Regions from separate parts of the Homo sapiens genome. Here regions 2, 3, 4 and 5 are each reported to be linked to region 1. Evidence: microRNA targets listed by miRTarBase, many of them from high-throughput screens and not tested one by one. Region 1 holds a microRNA gene; each other region holds the end of a gene's coding sequence.

Region 1 (4,606 bases):
GAAATCTTACTGGCAGTCATGTCATCCAAGAAGTTGTTGGCATAATCTCGGAGTGCAACAGCAAGGACCTAAACGGGCAGATCCTCTCCCAGGGGAAAATCAGTAGTCCTTCAGCGTTGGCTGGGTTTGATGGACAGAGGAGAGCTGAGTCCAGACATGAGCTGGGAAGTGGACATCCGCCTGCCACGGTGAACGCAGATAGGCAAGTGCGGGAATGAGACTCAGGTGGTCACTGAAGACATGAAAATGGATGAACTCTCCACGGAGGAAATGTAAGAAGAGGGGAAACCTTGAGTAATCCCCAGTCTCATTTTTAATTAGGAGTTTCACCTCTGTTTCTGTCAAAACATTTACTGTAACAAGTACCAAAACTAATTTTAATTTTGACTTTTACTTTATAATTTGTGTGTAGAGCCAATGCTGGGAAGGAAAAAATGACCCCAAATTTGGCAGACAAAAGAATGAAGGAAGGGAAAACAGAATATACGATGCAGAAATGGATAATCCACACTCTGAGAGATGCACTTCCATTCTTATGTCTTCAAGGCCACTGTCTCAGTCCTCGCTGTGTGGCCCTTACCGTCACCAGCGTTCAGTGCTTACAGGTGTGTCACTCAGTCGAGGGAGTGAGGAAGCTGCAAGACAAGGCCTTGGCATGCTCTTCCTGCGCTGATGTCCCTGACCTGCAGCTGGGCTGTGGGCTGTGGAACCCTGTGGTCCCCCCACGCCACCCTCTCACCACCACCTCCTCCTCACAGAGCAGCCTTAGCATTCTCATTCTCTACCAAAACCAAAACCAAACCAAAACACAGGAAAAGGTTGGGACACCTCTGGTCCTGACGGTCCCTGGAGGAAAAGTTCCCCATGAGGAGTGATGGGTCAGTCACGTTTTCAAAACAAACGAGAGCCAGGACGCAGGCCTGTGGCTCAGCCCGCAGCGTGCTTGGTGCCACAAGCCCCCCCGCAGCTGCCCAGAGTCTCACCCCACTCTGTGCAGGGGGCCTGGAGGGCAGCGGCGGCACAGACCCACTGGACGCCCTGGTGCATGGCTGAGCCATGTGCATCCCATGGCTCTCTCCAGAGTCCCTTCCCTGCACCTCCAGGGCCTCCCCAGATGGAACTGGCTGGGAGCCGTGCTTTGTTGAAACAAAGGGAAAACCTGTCTCTCTTGGGTTTGCAGCTGCTGTTGAAACCAACTGAACCTGTTTGTAAAATTGTACCTATGTCACAGTAAGATCAGCTGTGCTAGGTATGTCAGGCCTCTGAAAAGAAATGTCATTAAAGTAAACAAGACTTGGGACACATGTCTGTCAGACTGTACACAGTAGAAGCATCCCTTGCAGGGGCTGTTGGGTTGCATCCTAAGCTGTGCTGGAGCTTCCCGATGTACTCTGTAGATGTCTTTGCACCTTCTGTCCTCATTGCCATCCCCAATCAGTCCCTGGAACACCAGCTGTGGCCCTGACCCTTTTAGCCCCTGCATGGAATGCACAGGCAAGGCGTGTGGCCTTTGGGACTCCAGCCGACTAGAGCAAGACAGAGGAAGAAGAGACGGGGCAGAGGGCAGCCGATAGTTGGAAACTTCTGTCCCCTAAGCCAAAAGGTTCTCAAAACTGAGCAACAGGATGTATTGTGTCTCCTGATCGTATTGCCATGGAAACTGCCTTCTGTTCTGCCTAGAAGAAATAGTACTGTTTGAAGTATCTCATCCATCAACACTGGTCACTGTGAGAAACCACAAAGGAAAAGTGAAACCGAGAGCTGCAAAACTAGCCTGGGACTTTGTTCAAGCGATCATCTCCTTTCCCTCTAGTTTATTATTTTTTCCAATACCTACTGAGACTACTGCTAAGCAGCACAGAAAGATACAATACACTGTTTTTATAGCACGACACAAAGATCATGGGTGGCACTTCACATGACAGGGTTAGATTCAGTCTTCTGAGTTTTCTAAGGTTCCTATTTTTAAGACTTTACCAAGGAACCAAGGCTTTCAAATATGCAGCATGGTTTCTTCTGGGCCTCGCGTTGCCCCATCTCTTATCCAAGTGGTGAATGTGTTGCCAGTTTGTGTGTGGTTCTGGTGGTGGGCTTTGTTTGGTTTTCTTTTTTTGGGCTTTGTTTGGTTTTTCCCCAGTTTTGCCACAAAGCTTTTGCTGAGGACAGCAGCCTCTGTGGTGTCTTTTCTCTCTGTATTGTGCTCACTCTTGTAGTCATGCACCACATAACAATATGTTTTGGTCAATGACAGATTGCATGTATGACAGTGGTCTCATAAGATTATGATGCCATATTTTTGCTATGTCTTTTCTATGTTTAGATACACAACTACCATTGTGTTACAGCTGCCTCCAGTATTCAGCACAGTGACTTGCTGTACAGGTTTGTAGCCTGGTCGCCATAGGCTACACCAAGCAGCCTTGGTGTGTAGTAGGCGATCACATCTAGGTTTCTGTAAGTACACAGCAACAAAGTCACCCAACAGCACATTTCTCAGAATGAAGCCCTGTTGTTAAGCGACACGTGACTACAGTTTTAAGTCTAACAAGATGCCTCTCGTTCAGTCCTGAAGTGCTTCTTGTTTAGTTTTTAATGTACGTTTGTTTTGTTATCTCAGCCAAACTCTTTTCAGGGCCATAGGAAATTAGTCATTTCTCTGTGTCACAGCCTCCTTATCTGGCCCCAGGACAGCGCACTACGCATAGAAGGCAAATGAGTAAAACTAAGTGTAAGCATATTCATACTTACACCAAAAGCTGCAGCTTCCACAGAGCACAGGGAATTGCAAATAACTGTCTTCTATGAGGAGCTGCCATTTGTGGTTTCACCAGTTTCCCAGCATTGCTTCTTTGTAACTCCTGGTTCTTGTATTAGAAGAGGATGCTATGTCCATGAAGAATGTAGGTATCAAGCATGTCCTTTGGGAGCCTCCTTGCTTTAACCCCTCTCACCCCTTCCACCCCGCCTTCATTAGTAACCCATCACCTGGGTCTTCATATCCCAACTAACTACAGTCTTGGCTAAGAAAACCCCATACGCCTTAACTCAGCAATATGCCTCACTATGTCTTTGTCCATTCAGTTATCCATTTTGCAACTGTTTCTTGAGTGCTTGCATATGCCAGGTCGTACAGGAGGCCAGGTCTACAAACAGGACAAGATGGAGAATCACAGTCCCCGTGGAGCTAATAGGCTGTTGTGAGATTCAGGCCGGTTAGCCTGCAAGTGAAATGGGATGTGCTGAGAGCTGTCCTGGGGAAGGGATGGTGAGGTGTGAGAGCACGCAGAGGAGTACAGGGTGGTGAGAGCAGGCTCCCCAGCAGGAGTAGAGAATGTGAGGGCGGTGTTGTGAGAAAGTGACTCCAGTGGCAGACAGGAGTCTGGTAAGCCCAGGTAAGAAATTTCTGTCGGATTCTGAAAGCAACAGGGATGCATTGAGTAGCATCAAAGGGGAGGATGTCTGTAGTCATCCGAAAAGGCCCTTAATGTACTCTCCCTTTCTTTTCTAACTGTGTATCTATGTGGCTGGATTTGCTTCATGTACTTCAAAAACCAGAGTAACAGAACAAAATCGAATGCAGAAGCAGATGGGAGAATCCAGCAACCTTCTAGTAAGTCAGACATTAAAGAGATTTGCAAAAATGGAAAACAGTGCCACTCTTCTCAGTAATTCTGTTTGGGAAAACATGGTTATTTTTTATTTCAAAAATCTATATTTATGTTAGCAAGTAATAGGCTTGTGATTGTTAATGAGTTATTAAATATTTTTAAATTAATAAAAGGGCAATGAGGAGCCAGCAAAGGGTTTCTAAGTAGAGGAGGGGCTTGACGAGATTTGTATCTTAGGAACTAACTCTGGAGCCACCCCGGCCATGGACTGTGGTCTCACACGGGGCAGTGAGAGTGAGGGTGGAGACAGTGGCGGGGGAGTTCCAGTGGACAGAGCCTAGAGATCTGGTTTATGCAGTGGATGGATGTGGATGTCACACCCCAAGACAGGGGACACAGCAAGAGATATGGGGTGGGAGATGAGTTTGTTTGGGACGTGTTCTATCTTAGGTGTCTCCTTAACATTTAGATGAAAGTGTGTTCAGGAGACAGTGGGTTACATGGCTCTGAGACACAGTGTTTGGGTTGGAGGTTCGAGTTTGGGAGTCTCTACCCCATGAAGCCCTAGGAATGGATGGGCACCCAGAACACGGAAGAAGGAGAGAAACACTCCCCACATGGAACCTTCAAGAACACCCGTGTCTGAAGGACAGGAGTGGGAGGAGGAGAATCTGAGGACACTGAGAAGGCGTAGCTAGAGGGCTAGAAAGAAAGCGGGATGCCACAAAGCCTGGGGAAGAGAATGTCGAGGAAGAGTGGTCAGTAAGACCTGGTGCTGCCAGAAGGCAGGTCACAGAGCGCTCAGGAGGATCCACTGGATCTAACAAAGGGTGCTTTGATAACCTGGAAGAAAAAGGAAAAAGTGTTTCATTATTAAAATACCAGACTATGAGCTTCTAAAAGGCAGGGAGGTTGTCTTAATTCTCTTTCTACTTTTGTTGCTGAAAGTATTACCAGGTACATTAGTAGATGTGATAATTTTGTGATTTTACATTAAC
Region 2 (4,000 bases), not on the chromosome of region 1:
ATTATCACTTCTTTTTTTCTCTGGAAAACAATAATTTATGATTATTTTCTTCATAATAGCGGCCTTCTAATAAAATTCATGGTAAAATAAAACGGTATGTGTTCCTAATTTTCTCCAACTTCCACTGTAAGATTGGAGATGGTGTAAGTCCCTAACTCAGGTGGAGCTGATTCAACTTCATCAGTGAAAAATAGGGCAGCTAAGAAGCTTCACTAAGTTCAAATGGGTCACAATACAGGAGGCTCCTTGCTTTGAGGAGCTATTCATGGCTGAGAGTTACTAATGGCAAAATTTCCTTCCCTAACAGAAATCATTCCTTCCTTCCAGGCTGGTTATATGATTATACCCAGACATACAATGGCTCTTTCTACTTCTCTGGCATATGCTATCTCCTCTCTTCAGTTTCCTTTTTTTTTGTACCATTGGCCGAAAGATGGAAAAACAGTCTGACCTGAAAGAAAGAAGACTGCAATCAAGTGAGAGCTAAACAAAAGAAAACCTAAACTAATGTCATTGGAAACAAAAGCTTGAAAGAAACACATCGCATCTACATTTGTAACATGAGAAGGAAAACAATTTTTTTTTTTTTTTTTTTGAGACGGAGTCTCGCTCTTTCGCCCAGGCTGGAGTGCAGTGGCGCAATCTCGGCTCACTGTAATCTCCGCCTCCTGGGTTCAAGGGATTCTCCTGCCTCAGCCTCCCAAGTAGCTGGGACTACAGGCACACGCCACCACACCCAGCTAATTTTTTGTATTTTTAGTAGAGGCGGGGTTTCACCATGTTAGCCAGGATGGTCTCCATCTCCTGACCTCGTGATCCGCCCGCCTTGTCCTCCAAAGTGCTGGGATTACAGGCATGAGCCACTGGGCGCGGCCAGATAAGTTTTTAAGGTTCCTTCTTGCTTTAGCATTCTGAGAAATGTCTAATTGGTAGTAAGACAAGAGTAATAGCAACCTGTATTGTTAGTATTTAACCAAATAGGCTAAAATTTTAATCAGGTACCTTATGTATTAAATAGAAATCGGAATGTACCATAATAAATCCAAACTCTCAATTACGCCATGGTAATTCAGTCACTAAAATATGTAAAGATAGAAAATTTTTTAATTTAAAGAAGTGTGAAACATAGCCATTGATTGATCAGAATTCTGGAATCTGAATATTAAAACCTTACTTAGTGACTGGAATGGTATATGCTCCCTCCAAAAGTTTATCTTTGTTTATTGATTAAAGGTAATCCTTACTTTCTTTGTATTACTTAGGTTCTTAATTAAAGGTAATCCTTACTTTCTTTGTATTACTTAGGTTCTTAAATTTCTATGATAAACATGTATTGCTAAATAATAAAAAGTATATAAAAATTGCTTTAAAAACTTCTTTATTTCAAGATCATCTGAACAGCAATTTTGCCCATCAAAGCGTTATTTTTCTGCTACATCTAATTAACAAAATATTCACACTAAATATTGAAACGTCTCTTTACAAGATTTACATGAAAGTTGAATAGGTGGTTTTAATGGGAAATATGTTTAAATTAAAAGATGTTTCTTATACCACCAACCTCCCTTAGCATCTCCTTCTGAATGCTTTTTTTTTTTTTTTTTTGAGACAGGGTCTCACTCTGTCGCCCAGGCTGGAGTGCAGTGGTATGATCTCAGCTCACTGCAAACTCCGCCTCCAGAGTTCAAGCTATTCTCCTGCCTCAGCCTCCCAAGCAGCTGGGATCACCGGCATCGGCCACCATGCCCAGCCAATTTTTGTTATTTTTAATAGAGACAGGGTTTTACCATCTTGGCCAGACTGGTCTCAAACTCCTGACCTCAAGTGATCCACCCGCCTCGGCCTCCCAAAATGGTGGGATTACAGGCGTGAGCCTCCATGCCTGGTCCAAAATGCTTCTTAAACTATTACCATCATCGTTATTCCACTCTTCCATTCCTCTCTGCTTTAAAATGTCTATTAACAACTTACAGAGAAAAACTCTAGAAGACTGGTTTTAGCTCCATACCCTGTCACTGCCTATGTATGCCTTCTCTACCAGGCACCATTTCACTTTTCACTATCTGACTCACTCAAAGGCTACCTCCTTTGGAAAAATCTTCCCCAGCATTGTCATTCTCATCTGGAATCCTATCTAACTTTTAACAGAGTACTACATGAACTCACATGTCAATCCTTTCCATTAGTCTGCAAGATCAACAAGATGAATGGGGTTTCATTCATCTTTGTATTCTCCAAGGCCTAGCATAAGCTTTGGAACCAAATTAATCTCGGTTCAAATCTCAGTTATGTTAAAAAACAGTAGTTGATCCTATTTAAATATGGTTTTTATGGCTTTCTGACTAAAGCAAAAGAAAAAAGAAAACTGGTTTTCTGACTTAAAAAAAAAGAAATATCATTTTTACATTTAGATGTGGATGTCTAATATTTTTACATTTTACATGTAAAAAAAATGAAAAAAAAAACCACCCCTTACACATACAAACAGCAAAAATAGTTAACTAATAATAAATATCAGCTCTGCCACTTGTTACCATATGCCCTCATGAAAGTTACTTAAAATTAACTTATCTGAGACCCAATTTCCTGCTCTGTAAAATGAAAATACCACCAACCCACCTCACAGATATACTGTGAGGACTAAACCCATGAAAATATACTTGTGCCGGGCATGGTTGCTCACACCTTCAATCCTAGCACTTTGAGAGCTGAGGCGGGTGGATCACTTGAGGTCAGGAGTTCAAGACCAGCCTAGCCAACATGGTGAAACTCTGTCTCTACTAAAAATACAAAAATTAGCTGGGCACAGTGGCGCACGCCTGTAGTCCCAGCTACTTAGGAGGCTGAGGCAGGAGAATCGCTTGAACCCGGGAGGTGGAGGTGGCAGTGAGATCATGCCACTGCACTCCAGCCTGGGCAACAGAGCAAGACTCCGTCTCAAAAAAAAAAAAAAAAAAAAAAAAGAAAAAGAAAATATACTTATACCAGGCAAAATGCCCTTCATATATAGTAGCTGCTAATGTCCATTCTGCTTTCATGTCAAAACAAAAAATAAAAGAAATCAATGATTTTATGAACCACTTTCATTAATTCCTTCTTCTCTTTAGAGTAGCAATTATTTTTAAAAGGGACTTCAACTACCTAGAGCAACCTGATCCTTCCTCCTAGCTAAGCAAGCTGTACATTTTAAGTGGGACCAACTAAAGAACTCCAAATTGAATTCTTAGGTTTTATGAATCTCATGCAACAGAGAAGTTCTTTATCCTACTCAATAGTAATAGGCCCTCTAAACCTGGGTGGTGTGAATTAAGAAAGCCTGAATCCCAAGACTACAGAAAGCTAACGACTTCTATAACTAACGCGTTCATCATATTAACAATTAACTTATGATGTTCCTGTTCATTTACTGCTATGTTGTCATTTTTGTGGACAATAAGATGCCATATAAAACATTTCTAGGAATCCATAATGCAGGAATATCATCCCAGCTATATATGGAGTTTCAAGAAAAGCATAATAGTTGCTGATTTTTTCTTCCCCCTCAAGAGATTCCATAAAACAAAGAGGAAACAAATATTACACAACTTACATATGAGTAAGTGCGCTTGGGGCAGTAGGGTGGTGAATAACTTCACTTCAACATCTAATAATACACCAGTTACTGAGGTAGACACATACCTTTTTTAAAAAAATAATTTTCTTTCAAAAAATTTTTATTTGAGACCAGGTCTCGCTCTGTTACCCAGGCTGGTGTGCAGTGGCACAATCACAGATCACTGCAGCCTCTACTTCCTGGGCTCCAGTGATCCTCCCACCTCAGCCTCCCAAGTAGCTGGGACCTCAGATGTGCACCATGCCTGGCAAAGTTTTGTATTTTTGGTAGAGACGGGGTTTTGCCATGTTGCCCAGGCTGGTCTAGAACTCCTAGGCTCAAGTGAATCTCCCGTGTCAGCCTCCCAAAGTGCTGGGAATACAGGTGTGAGCCACCGCACCCAGCTGA
Region 3 (4,000 bases), not on the chromosome of region 1:
GACATGTCAGAAGCATTACTTCAGGCTTTGGTTTTTAAGTAAAATAGCATCTAATCCTCTACTGAGAACTCATAAGAAAACATTCCTTATATGCTGTGGTCTTCAGTTATACAAGCATTTTAAAAACAGGAGAATGAATATAAATCTTAAATCAGGCATTAAACCCAGCTGAATTGTTGGAAGGAGGTAAGCCTGAGACCATTCCTGGACAGCTTTTACCAACACCCATGTAAAGGGGGAAAGGGTGGGCAAGACGTGTGCAGCAGTCTGTATGGACAGCTTACCAGAGACTGAGGGCTGAGGCAGAATCGTGATTCCTCTGACCCAGCAGGGGCCTCCTGACACCGTCAGTGCCTTGGAGATGTGAATACCCACCTCACCGCCTGAACGGCCTGTTTTTGCAGTTGCCCCCATGTAGCAAAAAGTAGGATGCACGGATAGGACTTCAGGGGTCTGGAGAACATGTTTTTGCATAAACCCCAGCTTTGCTCTACTGTGGCACAGAGCTCTGGAGCCTGGTTTGTGAATGAGCCTAGCTGATTCTGGCTTTTTCTCCTTTCTTGCTCTAGGGGATGGACTGAACGGACAGTTCCAGAAGTGTGACTGGCTAAAGCTCGATGTGGTCACAGCTGTATAGCTGCTTCCAGTGTAGACGGAGCCCTGGCATGTCAACAGCGTTCCTAGAGAAGACAGGCTGGAAGATAGCTGTGACTTCTATTTTAAAGACAATGTTAAACTTATAACCCACTTTAAAATATCTACATTAATATACTTGAATGAAAATGTCCATTTACACGTATTTGAATGGCCTTCATATCATCCACACATGAATCTGCACATCTGTAAATCTACACACGGTGCCTTTATTTCCACTGTGCAGGTTCCCACTTAAAAATTAAATTGGAAAGCAGGTTTCAAGGAAGTAGAAACAAAATACAATTTTTTTGGTAAAAAAAAATTACTGTTTATTAAAGTACAACCATAGAGGATGGTCTTACAGCAGGCAGTATCCTGTTTGAGGAAAGCAAGAATCAGAGAAGGAACATACCCCTTACAAATGAAAAATTCCACTCAAAATAGGGACTATCTATCTTAATACTAAGGAACCAACAATCTTCCTGTTTAAAAAACCACATGGCACAGAGATTCTGAACTAAAGTGCTGCACTCAAATGATGGGAAGTCCGGCCCCAGTACACAGGGGCTTGACTTTTTCAACTTCGTTTCCTTTGTTGGAGTCAAAAAGAACCACTTGTGGTTCTAAAAGGTGTGAAGGTGATTTAAGGGCCCAGGTCAGCCACTGTTTGTTTACAAAATCAGGTAACTAACTGCATACACTTTTTCTCTTTCCATGACATCAAGACTTTGCTAAAGACATGAAGCCACGGGTGCCAGAAGCTACTGCGATGCCCCGGGAGTTAGCCCCCTGGTAATAGCTGTAAACTTCCAATTTCTAGCCATACGCTCAGCTCATCCATGCCTCAGAAGTGCATCTGGAGAGAACAGGTTTCTAAGCATAAAAGATGAAAGAGCAGTTGGACTTTTTAAAAATTCAGCAAAGTGGTTCCCTCTCTTAGGGACAGTCAAAACCAAGTCACTTAGGTAGTACCAAAATAAATAAGGAAAAGCTTAGCTTTAGAAACAGTGCAACACTGGTCTGCTGTTCCAGTGGTAAGCTATGTCCCAGGAATCAGTTTAAAAGCACGACAGTGGATGCTGGGTCCATATCACACACATTGCTGTGAACAGGAAACTCCTGTGACCACAACATGAGGCCACTGGAGACGCATATGAGTAAGGGCACTGACGGACTCATGATTTCTTCTTACCAGATGCTTTCCTGTTCTTTAAGAGTTTAAAATCATCAGAAAGGAAAAACAAACTCTATATTGTTCAGCATGCAATACATACCACGCTAGGGCTGGCTCAATTGAAAGTGGGCAAAAGCTTACAAATACTAAAAAGAAGTGCTGCCGCGCAGTGTGGAGGCCACTGTTTGGAAATAAATCTTCCTAACACTACGACTTTTCATGTTTTGGAGTGGACTTTTAAAAAAGTTTTCCAACCACAATGGAAACAGGTTGAACCACACTGCGCCTACACATCCATCCATACGTCAGCCATTATAATCAGATTCTCACTGGGGGAGGCATTTTCTTCCCAAAGGAGCTGTATGCAGTCATCACCCGGAACTAATGGGAAAGTGTTCTTAAGCAGCAAGTGACTCTGGACCACCTCTCTCACACACTGACTCTTCCACAGCATCTTCACCTGCTTCTGTTTCACTTGAATTCATACAGTAGGCCACCATTTTATAACAGGTCTTAGTGTAAATTCTTCCAGACCAAGTCTGAGATAGTCTTGGTTGTAAAGCAAGACCGTCACCCCTTCTCCCAAAGCCAACATTATAAAAAGATTCCATTGTCTCAAACACAAATGTTCCAGTCTTGAGCACTTCCCAGCCATGGTGACTCGGGCATATCCTGGCAGTTGGTGGATTTTGCCCTGTAACACAATCCTTGTGGATATGATTCAAAGGTGACTTTAATTCAGAGAATGTGTTTTCCTTTCTGTTTTAAAAATATTTGAATTAAGTGATGGAAATTCTTTTGTTAAACATCAAAAGCTTTCTCCTTGAAAAGATGCTTGGTGTATCTGAAAGTCACGTGGGACATTTGGTGCATTCAGAAGGTCAAATCATTCCTGACCTCTCCTCTTAGGACCCAGCATTAACTGCTGCGATACTCAAGGCTTCCTTAAAGGATCACAGCACTGGCGCCTAGTTTTACTGTCCAGCAACTTTATTAGTTGTGCTAGCTGAGAATTGGAATATAGAGTCCTTTGAATGTTACGATCTTGTTTTCAAAACCTGGAGTCAAACCAATTAAGTATGGACTTAACAAAGACAATTGATGATGTGAAATGATACCACCTGTCAAGGGCATAGTTACCATGTGGATAGAAAGATGAGTCCACTGATTATCTTCAAATCCCATGTATTCTCTCTAGCACGTTGCTTCTGACAGAAAGAATAACTCACAGATTTGAAGTTTGTTCCTTTCCCCTGATGAAGAGTAGATTGGCCAAAAGGTAGATGACAGGAAGGAAGAGGAGCCAGAATGACCCACAGTGATCAGTTCAGCAGTGCAGAGCGGCAGTGCAGAGGCTCATGGAACTCACACGGAAAAAGGAAACACATGCTGCTTAAAATGCACGATAACTTAATTATCCAAATTACCATTCAATTCCGGTATTTTTGAGATGAAAGCATTTGAGCCAACACTAAATTGACCTTAATTAAGGAATGAGGTAGGAAGAGGCACTTTTAATCTGGAGGAAGAAATAAATGGAAGACTGTAATAGGAAAAATACAGGTCTAGGAAAAAAATAATTTTTTTCCTTTGATGCTGGCCAAGGACCCCTCTACATAATACAGTTCTCCTGCTGGAAAGCATCAGGGCAAACAGAGTTATTCCAAACTCTGCAACAGGGAAGACTGTACTTTGACCTTCTTTTCCTGGGGAAAGGGAACAACTAGTAATCTTTAAATGTCAAAACTTTTCTTCTAAATAGTACATTCATTAACCAGTTTCTTCTGGTGGTGCAAAGAACACTCACCACAGTGAGCAATACCACTATTCAATTTCCCCTTTGGAGAGGTGACAGCGGGGTAGAATCACCTGGAGTCAGCTGCTAGTCTTTAACTGATGACAAGGCCTTGCAAATACCCCTGAGAACAATTTCACTCTGAGCTCACAGGGAAGCAGCAGTCTGGTGTGGGCTCCTGTGGTGTAACCATCAAATGTGGAAGACCTGATGGTGTTAGTGTGTGGGGATGCCGGGCTGAAATTCAACAGCCTTGCAAAAAGAAAGGGAAGATGGGATGTGTTAATATTGTAGTGGCATGCACTTTCCAGCTCTCCATGGAGCTCTCTTTATATATGAGGTAATTGAATGTCACTATTCTGTACCATACAGCAGGTATTATCTAGCCAAGGTTA
Region 4 (4,000 bases), not on the chromosome of region 1:
GGAGGCTGAGGCAGGAGGACTGCTGGAGCCCAGGGGTTCAAGGCTATAGTGCACTATGTGCCTGTGAATAGCTACTGTATTCCAGCCTGGGCAATATAGTGAGAGCTCATCTGTAAAAAAAACAAGCAAACAAAAACTAAAGATGAGTGGGACTTTGCCAGATTGGCAAGGAGGCAGTAGTTTGTGGAAATATATATATATATTTTGAGACAGGGTCTCACTCCGTCCCCCAGGCTGGAGTGCAGTGTGCAGTCACAGCTCACCGCAACCTTGACTTCCCAGGCACAAGCGATCCTCCTGCCTCAAGCCTCCCGAGTAGCTGGGATTACAGTATTTTCTGGTGGTGGCGGGGGTCGTTTTTGTTTTTTGGAGACAAGATCTTGCTCTTTTGCCCAGGATGGAGTGCAGTGGCATGATCATGGCTCACTGCAGCCTCAACTTCCTGGGGCCAAGCGATCCTCCCACCTCAGCCTCCTGAGTTGCTGGGACTACAGGTGCATTCCACCTAATTTTTGTATTTTTTGTAGAGAGGTCTCACTATGTTGCCCAGGCTGGTCTCGAACTCCTGGCCTCCTGGCCTCCTGCCTCAACCTCTCAAAATGCTGGGATGACAGGCCTGAGCCACACCTGGCCTGGAAAGGCCTTTGGATCACAGAGGATTCTTTCCAGCTCATAGGTTTGCTGGACATTTCTCACCTCACTTGTAATTATTTGTTCAATGTCTATCTCCCGCATAAAAACAGGTCAGGGACTTTGTCTTGTTTATCTTTCTATCCCAGTATGCAGCACACAATAGGTGCAGCTGTTGAGTGAGTAACTATCCTCAAGAAGCTCTTCATGTGTTAGGTGCTCAGAGACGGGTTGCTCAGAGAAGGGGATTGTAACTAACCCAGACGAGGGTCAGAGTAGGCTTCTTGGAGGAAGTAGTGCTTGAGGTGTTTTGACAGAGGAGATTAACAAGGGGTGGGTAGTGGTGGAGGAGCATTCCAAGTAAAAGAAACGACATTTAAGGAGCCCAGGGCTGAAACTACACAAATGGAAGGGCTTGAGTGCCAATGAAAGTTAGGCTTTGGGGACAGCATGTGGAGATCCACTGGGGTTTCAATGGGGGAGTGACATGGCCAGATGTAATTTTAGAAAGCAGGCCAGGCACGGTGGCTCATGCCTATAAATCCTAGCACTTTGGGAGGCCGAGGCGGGCAGATCACCTAAGGTCAGGAGTTTGAGACCAGCCTGGCCAACATGGTGAAACCCCGTCTCTACTAAAAATAAAAAAATTAGCCAGGCGCGGTGGCGGACGCCTGTAATCCCAGCTACTAGGGAGGCTGAGGCAGGAGAATCGCTTGAACCCGAGCGGAGGCTGCAGTGAGCCGAAGATCCTGCCACTGCACTCCAGCCTGGGCGACAGAGTGAGTGAGACCCTGTCTTGAGAAAAAAAGAAAAAAGAAAAAGAAAGAAATCAAGAAAAGAAAGTGGCCAGGCGCGGTGGCTCACGCCTGTAATCCCAGCACTTTGGAAGGCTGAGGCGGGCGGATCACGAAGTCCGGAGTTCGAGACCAGCCTGACAAACATGGTGAAACTCCGTCTCTACTAAAAATACAAAAATTAGCCGGGCTTGGTAGCGCGCCTGTAATCCCAGCTACTCAGGAGGCTGAGGCAGGAGAATCGCTTGAACCCGGGAGGCGGAGGTTGCAGTGAGCCAAGATCGCGCCACTGCACTCCAGCCTGGGCGACAGAGCGAGACTCCGTCTCAAAAAAAAAGAAAAGAAAGTTCACTGCAGGTCGTCTTGGAGGGCACACTGGTAGGGAAGGGAGCTAGGAAAACCAGCAAGAAGGAACTTCCAGAAGCCCCAAAGGGCTCCGCTCAGGCCATCAAGAGCCCCAGCCCTGAACGCAGGGTTCTAGGGTTTTGAGAGCGCATCAATTTGGAAAGGGCGGGCGGAGCGGGAGGAGCCGCACTGCAGCCAGCCCTGGTCGGTTTCTAGGGAAGCCAGGCCAGTGCTTACGATCTCGCGAGAACCCGTCCAGGGATTCTTTCCGCACGGAGATCGGGGAGAGCCGGGGGCGGGAACTTGCGACCCTGTACTTCGTTGCCTTCATTGTTTAGCGGGGAGAACCGCCCTGGACTTCTTTTTTCTTTAATCCCTGGCCGATCAGGCCAGTGGTTGTGAAAACGCTAGGGATTGCAGACCTGCTTCCCAGGCCCCGCGGGGCGCCGGGAAATCCGGCGGGCTTTTCTGGGGGTGAAGGAGCACCGTTTGCCCTCCCTTTGGGCTGTGCAGCCGAATGACTCATTTCCCGACGCATAAAAAGGGTCTCGGGTGTCGGGTTTCCCAGGTCCCGGTGGGCGGCGCGCCGGCGTCCGGGCTTTCCACGCCGGTTCCAGACCTGTGGGCTGCCTCCCGCCGACAGCCGTCGCCATAGCAACAACGCCCCCCACACGCCCCCTCTTCCTCCTCCTTGCTGCCTTGTCTCTGCAGCGCCGCGCGGTTTTCCTTTTAAGGGTCGCGCTGGATGCTGTGGCGTAGGTGGTGCCTGCGGGCAGCCAGACCTCAGGCCTGGGGCATCGGCTGATGGAGCTGGCGGCCGTTTTTGAACCAGACGTCGGAGCTAGAAAGCCGCTGACTACGCCAAGACAACCTCTTTATTTAATGGGCTCAGAGAGCAAGGGAAGCACACAAAATTTACAGTCTGAGTTTTGCGCGCAGAGACCCCTCTCCACCTTTTTCATGCCTGTGTGTACACACACACTGTCCAAGCCTCAGAAGAGAAGCCGTTTATTGGTAAAAAGACACATGGAAATGTGGCTGCCAGGCCTCAGAGCATCCTGCCCTTTTCCCAAACAGCTGGCCTCTGCTATCCACCAGGACTTGGGCTTGGCATCCAGGCTGGATACCATGAGAGCACCTTCTGTCTCTGGTCTATTCTGCCAGTGTCTCCGTGTCAGGGTGGGTTGGCTCCCTCCAGGGCACAAAGGTCTGGGCTCTGTCCAAGAGTGCCCCTCCATAGGGGTGGGTACCACCATGCCACACAGCAGTATTTGCCCCATCCGGATGATCAAGATACCCCTGCCTCATCCTGTTACCTTAAATTCCAGAAGCCCCATCTCTGCAGCTCAGAAGGTAAACAAACCCTGGTTCAGGCATTGGTCTCCCAGAGCAAGGTTGGGAGGCATCAGTGGTGCAATCAGCTCACTGCAGCCTCAAACTTTTGGGCTCAAGTGATTCTCCCACCTCAGCCTCCCAAACTGCTGGGATTACAGGTGTGTACTACCTGCCCAGCAAGGGGAAAGTGTCAGTTCTTAACAGATGAGGCAGCAGGAATTTAGGGTTGAGTCCTTAGGTGAAAGCCAGTTTATTTATTCAACAAGTATTGAATGCCTACTGTGTGCTAGGCAGTCTTCTAGAAGCCAGGGGTACAGCCCGTCCTGGCAAGGTCCTGACTCAGCCCAGCCAGGACAGTTTCCTGAGCTTCAAGGTTACTGTCTCCAATCCCTATTTCTATCTATTCTTCCTCCCCTTTCTTCCCTTCCTTCTCCCTCCCACCACCTCCCAGGCCCTTTCTTCTCTGCTAAGCGGCAGAGCCCCTCCCTTTGGTCTCCTGGGCCTCCGCCCTCCCTGGACCGCGTCATTCCAGTCCTGTTGCTGCCTCCTGCTTGAGGGGCCTTGCCCTACCATCCCCTATCCCAAAGGGCGTCAGGACCAGGTGCCCACGCTGGTGCTTGATGCGGGCAGAACTGTCACCAAAACCCTTGCCACACTCTGCACACTTGTATGGCTTCTCCCCCGTGTGTGTACGCCTGTGTTTGACCAGATCTGAGCTCCGGGGGAACTCCTTCCCACAGAAGCCACACACGTGGGGCTGGCTGGGTCCAGAAGGCTGGGCCCGAACTCGGGGTCGAGGGGCCATGGGTACTGGGCCAGGTGGGTTATGTGGCCGCAGCAGAGTGGATGGTGGTGGTGGCCGGGCCCGTTCACCACGGTGGGTGCGGAGGTGCTTG
Region 5 (4,000 bases), not on the chromosome of region 1:
TCTCAACGAATTCCGGGCGGAGAGGCGGGAGTCCTGCGTGTCCCGCCGCGCCGCGGGTCCCAGCGTCCCCAGGAGTCTGGCATCCCCGGGAGGCCTAGCCCAAGGGCAGGAGAGTCAGCGGGGCCCTACTGAAAGTGCACGACCCGGGCAGCCGGCGGCCGAACAGCTCCGGGAGCAGGCGAGCGGTATCCGGGAAGCTCAAAGGCCGCCCCCCGGACGCCCCAGGCCCCAGCGCTGGGATTGTACCTACCTGCGGAATGTCCTCTTCTGCATGAGTCCGCGTCGAGCTGGGCAGGGTCCGAGAGCTGCCGGGCTGAGGGCTCCGGCCTGCATGTGCTCTCCGCGGTTAGTGAGTGTGAGCCCTGTGATGTTCCTGAAGATGGGGGCTGGGGGGGAGGGAGGGTAGGAGGTGTTTTGGGGGACAGGGGTGTTGGGCCTAACTGTGCTCAAGAGAGGATGGGAGCGGGGGTGGAGAGCCCAGGCTTGGGAGCCAGCTTGGGGCTGCTGTGTTTGGGCCGGCCAGCCGCTCCCCACCTAACCCCTGTTCCTCTGTTAGGCAATCTGTGTCCAGAAAATGCTCGGAGTTCTCCGGACACAGCAGCCTCTAGAGGCGGTCTTGGGGAATTGGGAGGCGGGAAGAAGGCCACAGTCTCCCCTGGGGTCCTGCTGTGTGATCTGCGCCGGCCGGGAAGCATTGATCTTGAGTCCAAAAGAGGAGAGAAATCGCACCCCGAGAAGAAGGCGCGAGCTCGGTGGCTCCAGTCCTGCGGGAGCAGAGGGGACAGCAGACCTGCCCAGGTAGAGGGAGACGACTTCTGAGGTGCTGGAGGCTATTTCTGGATTTTGCGCGGCCTGGCGCTGGGTGCCACAGCCGGTGAATGCGGGAGACCTGCAGCAGACCCGGCGCTGCCGCCAGAACCTGCTCACTACGCTCCACACAGCTCGTCAGGGCCCAACCTGAGCACTCCGCGGGCCTGCGGGGATGGGGCGGAAAGGCTGGCTGCTGTCTTCGGACCCTGAACCCTCCCCTCTTTTTCTCTTTTCTTCATGTCTACACAAAGTGAGTGACAGAAGCCCCCTCTTATGCGGATATCCCAGGGGACCCCAGATGAGGGGGTGGATGACCAAGCCCACCCTCCACTCAGCCGAACTTCCCCATGGGCTTGCTGGGGTGGGAAGTTGCTGTGCTCACGACCTGTGTCACAGCCCTCATGGCTGCCGGGCAGGGGCAGGGTTGGGGGACAGTGGTTCTGACAGTTAGGGTGGCTCCCCACCCTCAGTATCCCGCAAACACTTCTGCAGAGCTTCCAGTGACCCCCACACCACGAACTTCCACTTTCAGCTGAAAAGTTCTCTCACTCTCCCATCCCAGAGAAAAAGCCTCTTACCCCTCCATTTCAACTCACCCCTAGGGTGATGAGTTCTGTAGACCCTCCACCACACAGCTTCTTCCAGAAAAGCAGACCCAAGTCAGTCTTGTCTAGGATAATTCGAATAGGCTGGGGACTGGCTGTTATGCCTGTGTGCATGTGTACTGTGGCTGCAGGTCTGGCAAGGGTGGTCTGGAGGGCTCCTGGAGGTTCCCAGAAAGTCAATTCTTTAGATCTCTCCTAGGCCAGGCTAGTGCTGGGAACTGGTAGGTCCCACTTACAGCACCAGAGAGGATTCTGGCCTTAATTTCTGATTCAATGTGCCCCAGTCTCTGCAGCTTGCTGGGTAAGCGTCTAGAGCCCCAGAACTTCAGCAGATGTTGGTCCCGCCACAATGTATCTGCGTATCGCACAACAGACTCCCACCAACACATACACCATCAGCACACAATTACACACACTCATACAGAACCATACCCACCCACTTGCAGTGATGGTCTCCCACAGTGATCCACACTCCCCACTACCTTTACTCCCCCAATTACATTCTGTCACACACAAGTAAATACAGGGAAAATGCACAGCTCACACATAATTACATCTCACACACAATTACACCCATAAAATTCAAGATGATCCACTTCAGAAGCAGTCACACATTTCACAGAAAAATAGATTTACAAAGAGAAACTAATACATATTCTCCCAAACATCAACACGATTCATACATAATCACAAACAATGGTTGATTACACAATTACCCAAAAAGAAACAGTCACATTCACATACGGTTACACACACACCACTACAAGCCCGTGCATACAATGATAGTTTCGATTTGCAACTTAAGCAGAAACAAGCATTTACACGCAAGAATTGCAAACACAATTATACACTTAAATACCATTATAAATATTCACTATTTGCTCGCATTGCTGATTGCTCACATTATCACAAACACACCACACACACACACACACACACACACACACACACGACTCTCACATCCAAAGAAATCCACATCCTCTCAGGCACTGGTAATCCCAGGAGAGCCTGGCTCTCCCTGCTCTCCTCAACTCTGCCTTCTCTCCATCTGTCCTCTTCCTTTCCTCTCTCCAGAGCCTTAGGGTCCTGCCCCGCAACATGTCTCTCAAGTTCAGGTACCAAGGGCTGCCCCTGAAGCATCAGCTCACACACCAAACCCAAGTAGCTGAAGGACGCTAGGGTCCGCAAGGAGCAGGCAGCCCTGACTCCGGATCCGGAGGCTTTTATTTATTTTTTTCACATAAATTACACAAGCACTTTATAAAATGGTTACACAGAAAACACCTTATAAGTGCATAAATTAACACCCCCCCACCCCTCAAATGGGTTCTGGAGAAATGGGCTGCATTTATGTGAAAACCTGTCTGTGCGTACCTGGATTGGGCTGGGATGTGTGGTGGGGGCCTGGCAGACCAAGTGAGGCTGTTGTAGCTGTTGGCTGTTGTGTGTGGTGTAGTGTGTCACAGTGTGGCCATGACCTTGTGTTTGTGCTGGAGGGAGTGCCATGCTGTTCAGGATGAGTCTGTGTCACCCCTGACCTGTGCCTGATCGTAAGGTCCAAAGTGTAAACACTGTGACCCTCTGTCTGGTTGACACTCTCCCATAGATGCCCATGTGTGGCTCTGGGGTGACACCAGGAGGGACAGTGACACCACCTGTGTGTGGGCCTATGGGTTTCCATGTGTGTGATGAGAAGTGGGTCACAGAGAAGGGGTTTCCCAGGGCAAATTCAGATGACAGCCCTGGGGACCCCAGAAGCTCCTCCTCCCTTACCTCCCTTGCCTTTCTCTGAATCCCACGTTAAAAATTAAAATAAAATGAAATAAACAAAAACAGATTTCTTAACAGTTCAGACAGGTGCGGGACGCCTCTGGGAGGGGGGCGCGTGTCCTTGTCCCTTGAGCTCTTCCACCGAAGGGAGAACAGTGTCGGCACAAATGTGGGGGCCCTTCGGGGCCGTGCGAGGGCAGTGTTCCCCTCCTGGGTGCAGTCTGAGGCCAGGAGGGTGGGGAGGAGTCCTGGGTCTCAGGCCTCAGTGACCCCTGAGTGGGCCTGGGGTCCCACAGGGCAGAATGGGCAGGCTCACTCGCAGGCCGACGCCACCGACGTGACGCTAGTGATTTTGGTCGAGTCGTCAGACCACGGCTGCAGATTCTGCAGGGCGAAGAGCGACGAGTTGTGCACGCACAGAGGGTCAGCGGGCAGCGGCTGTGCCAGGCTCTTCTGGAAGGCCTCCTGCTGCAACTGCAGGAGGATGCGGTTCGCTTGCTGCCTCTCGGCCTCCCGTTCCTCCGCAGTCTGCCGTCTGCACCGGGAACAAGCCGTTACCTGCCAGGAGCACCGACCCAGCTCCCGCGTGTGCCCAACTCCTGGTGCGTTCCCAGGAGATAAACTGAACGAGCGCTGCTCGCCTTTGCAGTCCCCAAATCCAGTTTGGGCCCCTATAACGCGTTCCCTTCTTTTGAGAGTCCTGACTCCAACAAAGACTGGAAACCCCAAAGCGGATGGAGCCAAGGTATCCCAGAGGAGGAGCGATGGGAAAGTCTGCGAGGCCCAAACAGCTGGGACTCGCATCCACGCGCAGC

Evidence for each region. The annotated mature microRNA hsa-miR-623 reads AUCCCUUGCAGGGGCUGUUGGGU and lies in region 1 at 1,333-1,355, shown strand. An mRNA with a match to its seed (bases 2 to 7 or 8) in the 3' UTR can be bound and repressed. Matches are read on the target gene's strand: a 7mer-m8 pairs with bases 2 to 8, a 7mer-A1 pairs with bases 2 to 7 and ends in A, and an 8mer does both.
Region 2: miRTarBase lists SLC16A4 as a target of hsa-miR-623. Seed matches in the 3' UTR shown: 7mer-m8 at 676-682.
Region 3: the mRNA of BID is a reported target of hsa-miR-623. The part of its 3' UTR that is shown has no 7-base or 8-base seed match.
Region 4: miRTarBase lists ZNF48 as a target of hsa-miR-623. Seed matches in the 3' UTR shown: 7mer-A1 at 3,524-3,530.
Region 5: the mRNA of TLX1 is a reported target of hsa-miR-623. Seed matches in the 3' UTR shown: 7mer-m8 at 3,310-3,316 and 7mer-m8 at 3,190-3,196.

What each region holds. Positions count from the first base shown.
Region 1 is chr13:99,354,814-99,359,419 of GRCh38, forward strand. MIR623 (microRNA 623) reads left to right here and starts at 1,318; the gene lies at 1,318-1,415. All of the region lies in intron 7 of UBAC2 (UBA domain containing 2), which reads left to right. RefSeq lists an enhancer at 1,345-1,584.
Region 2 is chr1:110,360,221-110,364,220 of GRCh38, reverse strand. It overlaps SLC16A4 (solute carrier family 16 member 4), which reads left to right. Exons shown (of 9, transcript NM_004696.3): 9 at 328-1,364. The coding sequence ends at 455. Among named protein-coding and RNA genes, the nearest start is that of RBM15, 23 kb to the right of the region's middle.
Region 3 is chr22:17,732,161-17,736,160 of GRCh38, reverse strand. It overlaps BID (BH3 interacting domain death agonist), which reads left to right. Exons shown (of 6, transcript NM_001196.4): 6 at 570-2,023. The coding sequence ends at 581. Among named protein-coding and RNA genes, the nearest start is that of MIR3198-1, 30 kb to the left of the region's middle.
Region 4 is chr16:30,398,735-30,402,734 of GRCh38, reverse strand. ZNF48 (zinc finger protein 48) reads right to left here. Exons shown (of 3, transcript NM_001214909.2): 3 at 2,627-4,000. The coding sequence ends at 3,628. Among named protein-coding and RNA genes, the nearest start is that of ZNF48, 5.3 kb to the right of the region's middle. RefSeq lists an enhancer at 3,419-3,962.
Region 5 is chr10:101,136,411-101,140,410 of GRCh38, reverse strand. It overlaps TLX1 (T cell leukemia homeobox 1), which reads right to left. Exons shown (of 3, transcript NM_005521.4): 3 at 2,622-3,720. The coding sequence ends at 3,498. It also overlaps a transcript of TLX1NB not described here. Among named protein-coding and RNA genes, the nearest start is that of TLX1, 7.1 kb to the right of the region's middle.